2 linked regions of the Homo sapiens genome follow. The protein of the gene in region 1 interacts with the protein of each later gene in a biochemical or structural test. Each region holds a gene or a part of one and is shown on either strand. Other genes may lie near its edges. The genes, in order: CA2 and SLC9A1.

Evidence for each region.
Region 2: the proteins of CA2 (region 1) and SLC9A1 form a complex in vitro, tested with the Homo sapiens proteins (one study listed by BioGRID).

Annotation. Positions count from the first base shown.
Region 1 is NC_000008.11:85,459,873-85,467,283, reverse strand, and holds the start of CA2 (carbonic anhydrase 2), read right to left. Parts: upstream 3,278-7,411; 5' UTR 3,203-3,277; coding exon 3,169-3,202; intron 3,057-3,168; exon of another isoform or gene 2,951-3,056; intron 2,703-2,950; exon of another isoform or gene 2,369-2,702; intron 2,013-2,368; coding exon 1,815-2,012; intron 1-1,814. UniProt on the Homo sapiens protein: Catalyzes the reversible hydration of carbon dioxide. Can also hydrate cyanamide to urea. Stimulates the chloride-bicarbonate exchange activity of SLC26A6. Essential for bone resorption and osteoclast differentiation.
Region 2 is NC_000001.11:27,098,258-27,103,358, reverse strand, and holds the end of SLC9A1 (sodium/hydrogen exchanger 1), read left to right. Parts: intron 1-46; coding exon 47-136; intron 137-615; coding exon 616-686; intron 687-800; coding exon 801-974; intron 975-1,228; coding exon 1,229-1,343; intron 1,344-1,532; coding exon 1,533-1,634; intron 1,635-2,083; coding exon 2,084-2,156; intron 2,157-2,714; coding exon 2,715-3,052; 3' UTR 3,053-4,550; downstream 4,551-5,101. UniProt on the Homo sapiens protein: Electroneutral Na(+) /H(+) antiporter that extrudes Na(+) in exchange for external protons driven by the inward sodium ion chemical gradient, protecting cells from acidification that occurs from metabolism.

The sequences.
Region 1 (7,411 bases):
GGTCTCTCTGACCCCAGTCTATGCTGATAGCCACCAGACCATGTGTTCAAATCCACTTTCCAGTAATACATATTACTAGAATAATTTATTTCACTATCCATTTTTTAAGGACTATTAGGAACCTCATCTGCTTTCATTTGTTGGAGATTTGTTTCTTCAGTGCTCCAAAAAAGACTTAAACTATCCAATTTCTATGTAGCATCCAATGAGATACATAATTTGGCAGACATTACATCCATTGAAAACAATGACATCATTGTGGCTCTTTAAAAAAGTACAGCTACAGACTAAAGTAGCTCACTTCTTTTGGTTTGTAAATGACTAGACGTGAAATGTTATAGTATTCTTTCTGTATGTGTAATACCTTGAGACCTTTGGCCTTGTCTTGTTATAAATATACAGTATTCTTTACAAGAAAAAAATTGTTTAATTTAATTATATGAGCACTGTTCCTTTGGAGTGAGAGGAATGCTTGGGAAAGCAATGTAGCAGAATCACCGAACTGTTTTCAATGTACAACCTTTACTTGATTCTAATAAATCATCATACTATGCCAGAAAGTGTGAGTATGATTGTAAGTGTGTGTGTGTGTGTGTGTGTGTGTATGTATGTATGTATGTGTGTACTGGGGAGGGGTGCACACAGACAGGCACAGGTAGGTTGAAAACATTTCTCAGATGATCTCCACATTATCCCCCATCAAATTGTCTTCCAGAATCACCATTTCAGAAAGCCAGGTGTTTGCAAATTTTTTTAAAGTTGAAAGGAGGGAAGAATTCTTTTTTCAAAACCAAGTTGACTATATAGGATAGCTGCTGACAAAGAATAGTCTACCTGACTAAATGGTTATAATTACATATTATATAATATATTAGTACCGTAGGTCACTACTCCAAAACTTTCTCATTTTGTTCCACCACTCCCCTCACTCCCACACCACCACCAAACAAAATGTGTTTGCAGCACCATTTCATTCTATGACCTTCAGAGGAAAGCACTCAGGAAAATAGGGCACTGGCAATTAAATTAACTGCTTAGCAAAGAAGGCAGCTACTATGTGTGAATGGGATTGTTCTCTTGTTTCAAAAGAGAGAGAGATAAAAAAAAAAAAGCAGGATTTTTTTTCTTCTTTCTCTTTCTTTTTTTTTTTTTTTTTACAGTGAGCATCCTGTAAACAGCTCTATTACCAATAAATACGGTAATTGGTTTTGTCAGTAATGGGCCAGGTATGTTCACCAACTCTAAAACATCTTCGTTTGTGAAATGAATTTCTGAGTAGATATCAAAACATGCTGCCATCTTTATCACACTAGCCCAATACTAAGAAATACTCATAAGTAAAACATTTTCCCAGAATTTCAGTATTTTAAATTGGCACGTTTTTGTTACTCTTCTCGCTGCTAACTTGAAGATAAGGCTCACTAAGATATACTTTTTAATGGATATGCATCAGCTCTGCAAGACAAAATATTTTACAATCTTAAAAGTTCAATTGGTGCAAATCTCATCGTGACTGATCTTTATTGCGAGGGGACTTTGCACCTTTTGTGATTTTTCACAGGCATATCGCAGTTATTCAATGGCCTTCATAGAAGCCAAGGGTTTTACAGGGAAGAAACGGCCCCGGGACACTTCAAACTAATTAGCCTACTTCTCAGAATCTGAGACCTAATGAAAATGATCAGGGTGGCATCCTTGAGTCCTGAGACAAACTGTATTATTAAGAGGGTTCCTGCCACTGTTCCTGGCTCCTTCCATTAAGCTCGGAAAACAGCTACTGGCTAAAAGACACAAGTTATTTTCTAAACACTGACCTGCTTTGTCCTGAGAGTCATCAAACTCCACGTTGAAAGCATGACCATTGTTGAGGATCCTCAGGGAAGTTGCTTGATCATAGGAAACAGACAGGGGCTTCAGGGAAGGGTCATACTTGGCTGTATGAGTGTCGATGTCAACAGGGGACTGGCGCTCTCCCTTGGCAATGGGGAAGTCCTTATGCCAGTGCTCAGGTCCTGGGGGAAAGAAGACATGTGAATCCCCCATTGTGGGGAAAGGTACACCCAGACCCCTAGAGAAGAGCAATCATTCCGGAGCCAATCTGCTCAGTTCCAATTTTAGAAGCATCACTTAACAATGGGCTAAATTTTGGGAAAACACGTAATCTGTGCCTCAGTTTCCACATTTGTAATATGGGATAATTAGAAATCTACCTCATAGATGTCGCTGTAAGAATTAGAATCGATATATGTAAAGCTCTTAGATCACTGAGTGCTATATAAATATTAGCTATTTTAAGGTCGTTTTACTGAAATTCAGCAACTGAAATCGGGCAGACACTAATGTCAGGGCTTGTGGTTGCGATTTTGGGATATGCAAGCTCACTTAAGACATTCAAGGAGGTCTGGATCCTTTCCTCACTGCCCAGGCCCGGGCCCACCCCACCTTTAACCGTCAGGGTTCCCCACTACCTGGGAAGCCCCACACCCTCCAAAGATGCGCTAGGTGCGCCAGACGCATGCTCCTCTGCTCCGCTGGCTCCGAAGAACCAGATCTGAGGCCAAGATAAAACCCGATTCCTGATGTCCGACCCCCTAACATTAGAAGTCGAGAGATGAAGGGAAAACTCGGAAATCAGAGCCATGGATTCAAACCAGCACTGGAAAATGCCCCGGGACAGTTCGTGCTGAGCGCCTTAGCCACAGGTGGTGCTGAAGCTGGAGGGGTGGGGTGGGGGTGGAAGGTGGGGGAGGGGGGAGGGGAGTCTCTTAATTTCTCTGCGATCAACAACTAGAATTTTCCGTTACAACCCTTTCCCGCCTCCTCCTAGGTCCGGTTAAAATGATCCCCAGGTCGGGACCCGGGAGGGACTGTCCTCGGGTCCCGCGGCCAGGGCTGCGCCTCCCCTCCCTCGGGCCCTACGCGCCTCCGGCGGACGCGGGGATTCCTCCACAGTGGCCTCGCAGCTGGGGCAAGGGGGACATCCCCGGCGCCGCGGAGCCGCGAGCGGAGCGAGCGCCCGGGGCGCACCTGAGCCTCCAGCACTCCCCGCGGCCGCGGTAAACAGCATGTGCGGGCGCTGCGGGCCCCGGGCCGGCATCCGGGCTCGGGGATCGGGGATCGGGGATCGGGGATCGGGGCGCCCCCGCGCTGGCCGTCGCCGGCACTCACCGTTGTGTTTGCCGTACCCCCAGTGATGGGACATGGTCGCGCTGGCGGTCGGGGCAGGGCAGGAATCGGCACCGATCTGGCGGCGGCGGCTTGGGCGCCTGCACTGTGTGTCCGCGGGTCGCGCCGGCACCAGCTTTTATAGGCTCCCGCCAACTTCGTGCTCGGGGGCGGCCCGGGGGAGGGGGCTCGGGTGGACCTAGGCGACAAGGGGAGGTGGTGACGGGCGGAGGTGAACTCCCCGCGCTCGGGGCGGGGCGGGCCGGGCGGGCGAGTCTCCGGGGGCGGGGAAAACGCCCTCTCGGCTGGCGCCCGGCGGGGCTCCGGGGCTCCGGGGCTCCGGGGCTCCTCTCCCGCCGCCCGGCTCCCCTCGGCCCACGGCAGGGCCCCGGTGTCCTGGGCTGGCAGCGAAGCTCGGAGCTCTGGGCGTGCGGCGGCTGCGGTGGCTCCTGGGCTCCTCCGTCCAACCCGGGCCGCGGAGCCTCTACGCGCACCCCATCCCCCTCCCGGCTGCGGAGTCTGGCGGCGGCGGGGACTGCTCGGGACCCGGACCCCCGGCGCCTTTCGTCCCCTGTCCCCATTGTGACCTGTCTCTTGGCCCCGGAGCCCTCCCGCCCCACCCGCGCCGGGGTCTCCAGCGCGAAGGGCTCAGTCTCTGGTGTCCCCGGCCTGGGGCTGGCAAGCTGGGTTAGGAGCTATGACCTTGGGGCAAATAGGGATACGATCCTAGAGGCGCAGGGGAGCGCGCAGCATGAGTGCTGAGAGGCACGCGCCCTCTGCTGCACGGCCGTGGAATAAAACGAGACAACGGCCCCACAGTCCCCTGCCCGCAGCCCACGCTCGGGCGAGCCTGGAGGATTGCATTTCCTCGTAGGCTGGCAGAGCCTTACATGAAGCGCTCATCTTCTCCTACTTTCCTCCTCTTTAAAAAATTAACGTGGGTGAGGAGACGTCCTAGTTGAGTACATATTGATTTGAAATAACCAAAACTTTTAACAAATCACTTTTCTCAGAAGAATCCAGTAAGAGAAAGATAATTTCTTCCAAAGACATGAGACGTTCCCTGGCTGGCCAAGAAAAATTGGCATCTGGCATACCTAGGAATCATTCAAAATAGTTTAATAGGAAGGACATTTTGAGGCCAGCCAGCATTATGACATTTGTGGGTCCTACGGCATTTCACCTTGGTGGGTCCCTTTTTCATAAACACGCATTTATACCAACACTGACATAAAGATAAATATCTTAATATTATATATTTAAACATTTTCTTTAACCAACACCTAATTTTTTTCTTTTTTGTTCTTATTTTAAAAGGAAACATTTTCCTGGGCATCTAAAAGTATTGTGGACCTGAGACACTGTGCTTACAGGGCCTACTGGGTAAGTGAGGCTGTTTTGAGATATAGAGAGAATTCATTTCCTACAAGGGATTTTGCCACAGAAAAATCCGGGGGTTTGTGGGAAGGAGTTCGGTTCTGTGGTCTCTGCAATCTCTGAGGGCAATAGTATTAGAGTTACAGTTGGGGAAGCAGGACACAGTTTAATGTGATTGTGTCGGCCTTGACATCACATTACTTACCTTTGAAAATATACAGATAAATACAAGGATAAGTTATTAGTGGACATTTTTGCAATATGTATCTCAAAATCACTCTTTACTATTTATTTCAGTCAATTTCATCCAAACAAATATGATTCATGTTTAGACTTACTTGTTCTAAGATTCTAGAAAATTGTGTACTTCTGCTTATGTGGGTTTTGGGTTGATGTCACAGGGAATTCTTAGGCAAGAAAGCAGCAATAAAGTTTTTAAATTTTTAGGACCATTACAAAATGGAGTTTGTAGCAAAGAAGAAGCTTTTATTTGTGCCTCTGTAGGTGCATTGTATCTGTTGGGGCCCATTGATGTAATTTTGTTTCTTTACATAATTTTCAAATATTAACTTAGTTGCTATGAGACTCTTCACTTGGCCCTGGAGATATGGCGTTGATAGGTGCCAAGAATTGAGTGCAAAGTTTGTGAATGTAGAGTGGCTTCCCGGGATTCTGTGGAGGGAGCCAGGCGATTTGATCAGCAGGAATCCTTGTCTTTCATTTTCCGTGAAACTGGATTGTGGCTTTCCTAACAGGGATGAAGTAAGAGCATGTTTGATTCTTAAATATGCGTAAAACTTCAAACACCACCAAACTGCAGTTCACCAAATGGATTATTGTCATGGGAATTTTTCCTTATCTCTCACTTCTGGAAAGTGAATTAATTCTCAGTGGGAGCAAGCCCTCCCCACAGAGCTGCTGTTAGGGAGAGTGTCACATGTTCACCACAGGGTGGAGAGTGGTTCACCTTTGGTTACTCAGAAGCAATCTAAATTTTTTAGCAGCGTTTTTGGTATTACAGTGGTTGGCTTAGCATTGTTTTATTTTCCTGGTCAATTTTTTTTAATGGAGTTAACTTTATGCATTCATGTTGGTCAGTCCCAACCTAACTTTATTTTACTGAAGGCATTCTTCTTAGCAGGCTGTCATGATTCACTAGCTGCAAAAGACTACTCTAATACTGGATTTGTTCAAATAAAAAAAGTGCTTATCTTATTATGTACCTATCTTTCCATTAGAGGGAAGGATGGGTTCATTTCAGAATAATCTTAAGTAAAGGAACTGACAGTAGCTTAAGAAAAGTACTTTTCTTTGCCCCAGAAAAAAAAAAATTCAGGCAGTATATCAGGAAAATGTAATGTAAAAAAACTTAAAGTCTGTGTTCCAATTATTATAATAAAAAAGCTTCTAACATATTATTCTTAGTAAAAATGTGAAAGTATTTGCTTTTTCTCAAAAAATGTAAAGATATTGTTAAAATATTTTACAAGGTGAGATACACATTATTTATTAAATATTTAATTAAAAAGCTAATAAAAAGCCAGATATTCTCATATTTGTTACCATTATAGTGTTTAAGTAGATATCTGGGGCTGGACTCAGTGGCTCCCGCCTGTAATCCCAGCACTTTGGGAGGCCAAGGCAGGCGGATCGCTTGAGGTCAGGAGCTCAAGACCAGCCTGGGCAACATGGCAAAACCCCATCTTTACAAAAAATAAGAAGTTAGCCAGGCATGGTGGTGTGCCCCTGTAGTCCCAGCTGCTTAGGAGGCTAAGGTCGGCAGATCGGAACCCAGGAGGTTGAGGCTGCAGTGAGCCATGATCATGCGACTGCACTCCAGACTGGGAAACAGGAAGACACTGTCTCAAACAAAATAAAAATAAATAAATATCTATGAAGGCCAAGAGCCATTTGTTTCTTGGGGCTCCCATAGGTCTTTGCATACACATCCTTCTATCCTAATATTGGCAATTCTGCATTGTAATCAGACACTCTATTGTAATCATTGGGTTATAATCCAATGCCCCAATAAGCTGTTGACTGCTCATTTGTAAAGCAGGAATAATGACACTCACCTCATTGTTGTAAGAATTCAGTCAGTGAGCATAGATAAATCACCTGTCACGTGTAGGCACTCAGTAAATGATGGCTATTCAGTCCCTCCTAGACAGTGCTAAACAGTTAGAATATAATTTAAGGAATGCAAAATTAAACACCTGGGCCAGGTTCATGGGAAACATTTAAGAGGAATGAGTCTCCACAGCAGGAGGTGTTTTTTTGTTTGTTTTGTTTTGTTTTTTTTTGTGAGAGGACAGAGGAGTGTTTGGGTCATGGAGATGTCCATTCTACCACGCTTATGTTTTTCTTCCTAAACTGTGCCCCCTGAAGTTGAGTACTGTGTCACATTATTTATCTCTGTATCTTAGGCACCTAGTACCCTTTACCTAGCCTGAGTCCCAAGATACATATAGTAGTTACTCACATAGTACTCCTTGAAATTATAAACTTTGAAAAATCCAAATGGAGATAATGGCAGTTTCACTTTGCAGAAGTTAGTAAATAATTTTGTTACAGATTATAGTTAGCAAATAACATTGTGCTGAAATTAGGTTGGTTTTGAATCTGGGTTAATTTACTAGCTTTGTGACTTTGGGCAAATTTCTTGATTGTGCTAAGATTCAGTTTCCTCATCTATAAAACTAGGATAATAATAATACTTACCTCACAGAGTTGTGGTGAGGACTAAGATGATACAGTGTGTGAAGGATTTAACCTAGTGCCAATAATTAGAGCTTGATCAATGTCAGTTATCATTACTACCGTTACATGTTTCTCAGCTCCTATTTTGTGCTTAATATTTTCTATGTGC
Region 2 (5,101 bases), on another chromosome or scaffold:
GCCTGGGTAGCAGAACTGGAGTGCCTGACACCTGCCTGCCCCCCAGGGCATGACCATTCGGCCCCTGGTAGACCTGTTGGCTGTGAAGAAAAAGCAAGAGACGAAGCGCTCCATCAACGAAGAGATCCACACACAGGTACTGGAGTGCGGGCTGGGCCCTTGGTTGCAGAAGGAGGAACAGGGAGATAGGGAGCAGCTGGGCCTCAAGTCTCTGCCCCCCATCAGCCCCTTCTCCCTGTGCCAGTGCCCAGGGGCTCCCTCTGCCCCAGGAGGCCGCCAGGGTCTAGCCATAGGAAGGTGTGGTGTGAGCAGCTGGGAGCCTGAGGAGGGGGCATCATGCCATCTCTGCCTCCATTTGAAACCTATCCCAGGCATAGGTCCCAGGTGGGATTAGAGAAGGGGGCTCAGCCGGACACAGGCAAGGCTTCGAGATACCCAGAGTCAGGGCCGCTGGGTTCGATGAGTGGAGTGTGGGCGCCACCTCCTGGCTGCTCATGGAACCACAGGGCTGGACCCAGCAGGGCTGCAGCTACGGGAGGGAGTGGGGCTAGTCAGAGGTCTTGGTAGGGAAGGCGCCCCACAGCGAGGCTTGACTTGGCCCTGGGCCCCTTTCAGTTCCTGGACCACCTTCTGACAGGCATCGAAGACATCTGTGGCCACTACGGTCACCACCACTGGAAGGACAAGTAGGTGGCAGGCCTGGTGGGCAGGCAGGGAGGGGCAGGCAAGGGTCTCCTGGGCCTGGGCATCTCCCCACTCCTGGAAGCTGGCGCCATCCGTCTCCCTCCTCCTCCCACCAGGCTCAACCGGTTTAATAAGAAATATGTGAAGAAGTGTCTGATAGCTGGCGAGCGCTCCAAGGAGCCCCAGCTCATTGCCTTCTACCACAAGATGGAGATGAAGCAGGCCATCGAGCTGGTGGAGAGCGGGGGCATGGGCAAGATCCCCTCTGCCGTCTCCACCGTCTCCATGCAGTGAGTGCTGGGGCAACCAGGCAGCTTCTGCTCCCACACACCGGCCCCTCAAGCCCGGTTGGAGGTGGCCACCTGGGGGGCGGGGTCTTCTGTTGTCCTGTTGGGGCGGACAAGAGAGCTGTGGGCTCGCACCAAGGACCTGAGGCTTTGGCGCCCACCTGGGTCATCCCTAGGGTGACTTCCTTCTGGCCAAACCTGGGAGGCACCAGGATCCCAAGAATCTTGGGGACCTAACCGATGCCCTATTGCCCCAGGAACATCCACCCCAAGTCCCTGCCTTCCGAGCGCATCCTGCCAGCACTGTCCAAGGACAAGGAGGAGGAGATCCGCAAAATCCTGAGGAACAACTTGCAGAAGACCAGGCAGCGGGTGAGGGCCTGCTCCCCAGCCCGACCCCCAGGGTACAGGAGCCCTTCAGCCCCTCTCTACGGCAGCCCTGCCCTGCCCGTGCCCCTCGGCACCCACCCCAGGACTGGCCCGGCCTCCAGCACTGCCCCCACCCCTCCATGAGCAGAGCCTTCCGGGGCCCGCACTGCCCTGACGCTGTCCCTCCCACAGCTGCGGTCCTACAACAGACACACGCTGGTGGCAGACCCCTACGAGGAAGCCTGGAACCAGATGCTGCTCCGGAGGCAGAAGGCCCGGCAGCTGGAGCAGAAGGTAGCCTCTGCCTTCCTCTGGGAATCTGTATCCCACCCCACTCGCCCAAGCTCCGCCACAGCCTCTAAGGAAATGTACCCATTCTAGGAACAGGGTTTGGCTTTCGAGGGGCTTTTAGCAGTGTAAGGGCATGGAGAGCCATGAGTTCTAAGCAAGGGATTGGCGTGGGGTTGTGGGGCATGGCCTGGGTTAGGGCAGTGGCAGGGGACAGAGGAATGGGTGGATTTAAGGCTGAGCAGTGTAGGTGTATTCAGGGAGGCTGTGACAGGAGCCTGGGATGAGCCCTTAGGAGCTCCTGAGGGGCCAGTACGGGTGCCCACACAGGCACAAGGGAGGGGGAGCAAGCGCCCTGCATATACGAAAGGTGGGGTGTGCACTGGCCGGGTTCTGTCCTGAGGGGCTCCCTCTGCCCAGCTGCCTGTGCTCACCCCGTCTGTCCTCTCTGTCAGATCAACAACTACCTGACGGTGCCAGCCCACAAGCTGGACTCACCCACCATGTCTCGGGCCCGCATCGGCTCAGGTAAGGGCCTGGCGAGGGGCCTCAGGACTGGGCACTCTGAGCTGCCACCTCCTGAGGATGGGGCTCCACAGGAACAGTCCTCAGCCACTGGGAGGACAGGCCTGGCCCTCGCTGACCTCAGGATCCCCTCCCAAGCCATGAGCTGCTTCTACGTCAGGGGCCATCCCTAGGGAGAGAGACGTTCCGGGCGAGGACTGTGTGGGGAGCTGGGAGAGCCACGGTGCCTGGCAGGAAGGCAGGGTATCTGCCCCATCGAGACCCCCAACACGTGTGGGGAACGTGAGGGCAGGGCCCCAGGGCAGACTGACTCAGGGAGGAGCCCCAGGCCTTGGCCTGTGGAGGGACACCTCTGGGAGCCCCTGTCAAAGGAGAGGGCCACAGTCTGAGGAAGAGAAGCTGTGGGGTGGAAGGTCGCAGAGGCCTGCTTCTGAGGCCTGTTGGGACCGGGACGGCTGTGCTCATGAGAAGGCCTGAAGGAGGCACTGACGCGGCCGAGTGGCACGTGCTGGGCCGGGCTCCAGAGCGGAACCCAGCTTGTGCCTTGCTCTTGGTCCCCAGACCCACTGGCCTATGAGCCGAAGGAGGACCTGCCTGTCATCACCATCGACCCGGCTTCCCCGCAGTCACCCGAGTCTGTGGACCTGGTGAATGAAGAGCTGAAGGGCAAAGTCTTAGGGTTGAGCCGGGATCCTGCAAAGGTGGCTGAGGAGGACGAGGACGACGATGGGGGCATCATGATGCGGAGCAAGGAGACTTCGTCCCCAGGAACCGACGATGTCTTCACCCCCGCGCCCAGTGACAGCCCCAGCTCCCAGAGGATACAGCGCTGCCTCAGTGACCCAGGCCCACACCCTGAGCCTGGGGAGGGAGAACCGTTCTTCCCCAAGGGGCAGTAACACCAGGGCCAGCAGGCAGCGCCTGTCCCCTCACAGACTCTTCCACCAGAGCAGGGGCTGCTGGGGGCTCCCCTTGCCCTTCCTGACCCGGATTGGCCCTGCCCCTCCCCCTACCGCATGGCAGCTGGGCCCACAGCCCCCACCCCAGCACAGCTCCTCCCCTGCCGCCTCCCGGGAAGCATCCTCCCCACCAGAGCTGCCTCCCCAATCCATTTGGCAGAACTGCTGGGGCTGGTGAGGCCGGCCCTGCCCCTCCCTAGATCCAGGCTTCTCCCGGACCTGGACTAGGGCCTCGGAGGCTCCTCCCTCTGCCTCATCCTCCTCCTCATTCAGACCAATCTTAGTTTCTAACCAAAGAGTCTCTGGCTCAGCTGTGGTCCCACCCAGGAAGGGAGGGAGCTGAGGCCTCCCTTGAGTAGGCCCTGCTTTATCAGGGGACAAACCAGGGGTACCAGGCACATGGCTGGGGGAGGGACTGCTGACCCACCAAGGTCTCACACTCCTCCTGCCAGCTCTGTCACCCTGGCCACCACCCAACCTGTCCTTACTCAGAGCTGCGGGCTGAGGGCATCTCTGAGTGTCTCTGCCTGGAGCAGGGGTGGTTTCTACGGTGACAGTGACGTGACTCAGAGCTTTTCGAACTGTGCTCCCACGGGGACCACTGGGCCCCTCAGGGGAAGCTGCTAGGGGAAGGACTGGCCGTGGCTCCAGAATGTGCTGCCTTTTTAAGTTTTGTTTGTTCACACTCCTATATATGATTGTTTGCACAGAGGGCGCTCCTGTTTTTAAAACATTTTGAAAACCCCTGGCTGAACAGTGCTCTGCCTCTAACTCCCTCCTCACACTCCAGAATTACCCTTCCTCATCTGTGCCTGTCTGTCCAACCCCTCCCCCACGTCTCTCTGCCTGCTGGGCTCTTAACTGTTGCTCGAAGACTGTGACATCAGAAGTAACTCCCACTCCTAATCAAGAGTCTCTCCAGCCTCACAGATGCTGGCCTCTTGGCACCTGCCTAGCTCTTGGGCCTGACCTCCAGTCCTGCTGGCCTGCTCTTACTTCCCCCACCCTGGGTTTGGCCCCTGGAACCTTTCCCTTGTGTGTACCACACCCTGCCTGCTGTGGAGCCCATTGTGGAGGCGGTGGGGGGGAGAAGGCCTCCCCTGAGGATCCCCTGTCCCCTGGGGCTGGTGGATTGGGCAGAATCCTGGGCCCCCAGAGACCTTTGCCCACACACACTCCTTCCCCTTGTCCCTGGGGCACTCCCCCAGGATTGTGCAATAGTCAGAGTGTCCCTTTTTGCAGGGGACTGGGCCATGGGTCCTCGGCCCATCTGTCCATCCTCCTCTCCATGCAAGTGCTGTTTGGGCAGGAGTCACCATGCAAGGGTGACATCGACAACCACGTACCAAGCCACCGCAGCTGCTGCCACTCTGCTGCCTGTACAGAAGAAACTGAATCTTTTTCATATTCTAATAAATCAATGTGAGTTTTTAATAGAGTCAAGGGCTGCTTTCTGGGGACGAGGGTCTTTAGGAGGGAGGGTGGCCTGAGGGCGTGAAGTACTTAGTTCAAAGGCTGGCACAGAAACACTTCATGGCTGTCAGCTGCTGGGGTGGTTGTTCCCACATGCCAGGCACTGAGATACCACAATGAGCTAAGCAGGACGTGCCCTGCCCCGCGGGGGAGAGCGGCACTAACCAGTGCCCAGTGTTTGTGCAAGAGGTGAAAAAGAGGCAGAGGGGAGGGAGGGACGGCGAGGAGGACCCTCCTGAGTCCCGAGTGAGTGAGATCCCAGGAGGGGACTGAAGAAGGAGCCAAGGCTTCCGGGTGGAAAAGGACCCAGAAAGTTCCCAAACATTGTAACTGGGAGCTGTGCCCACGAACACTGGGACCTGAGAAAAGGCCGGGTGGCTGGGTCAGAGTGACAGGGGAGGCAAGGATGGGGCCGCGTGCTCCATGGTTAAGATTTTGCTCTTAACCGTGGGAAGACCAAAAGGGCAGTGGGAAGTCACTGAAGCCCTCAAGTTCTCACCTGTAAAGTGGGGACAG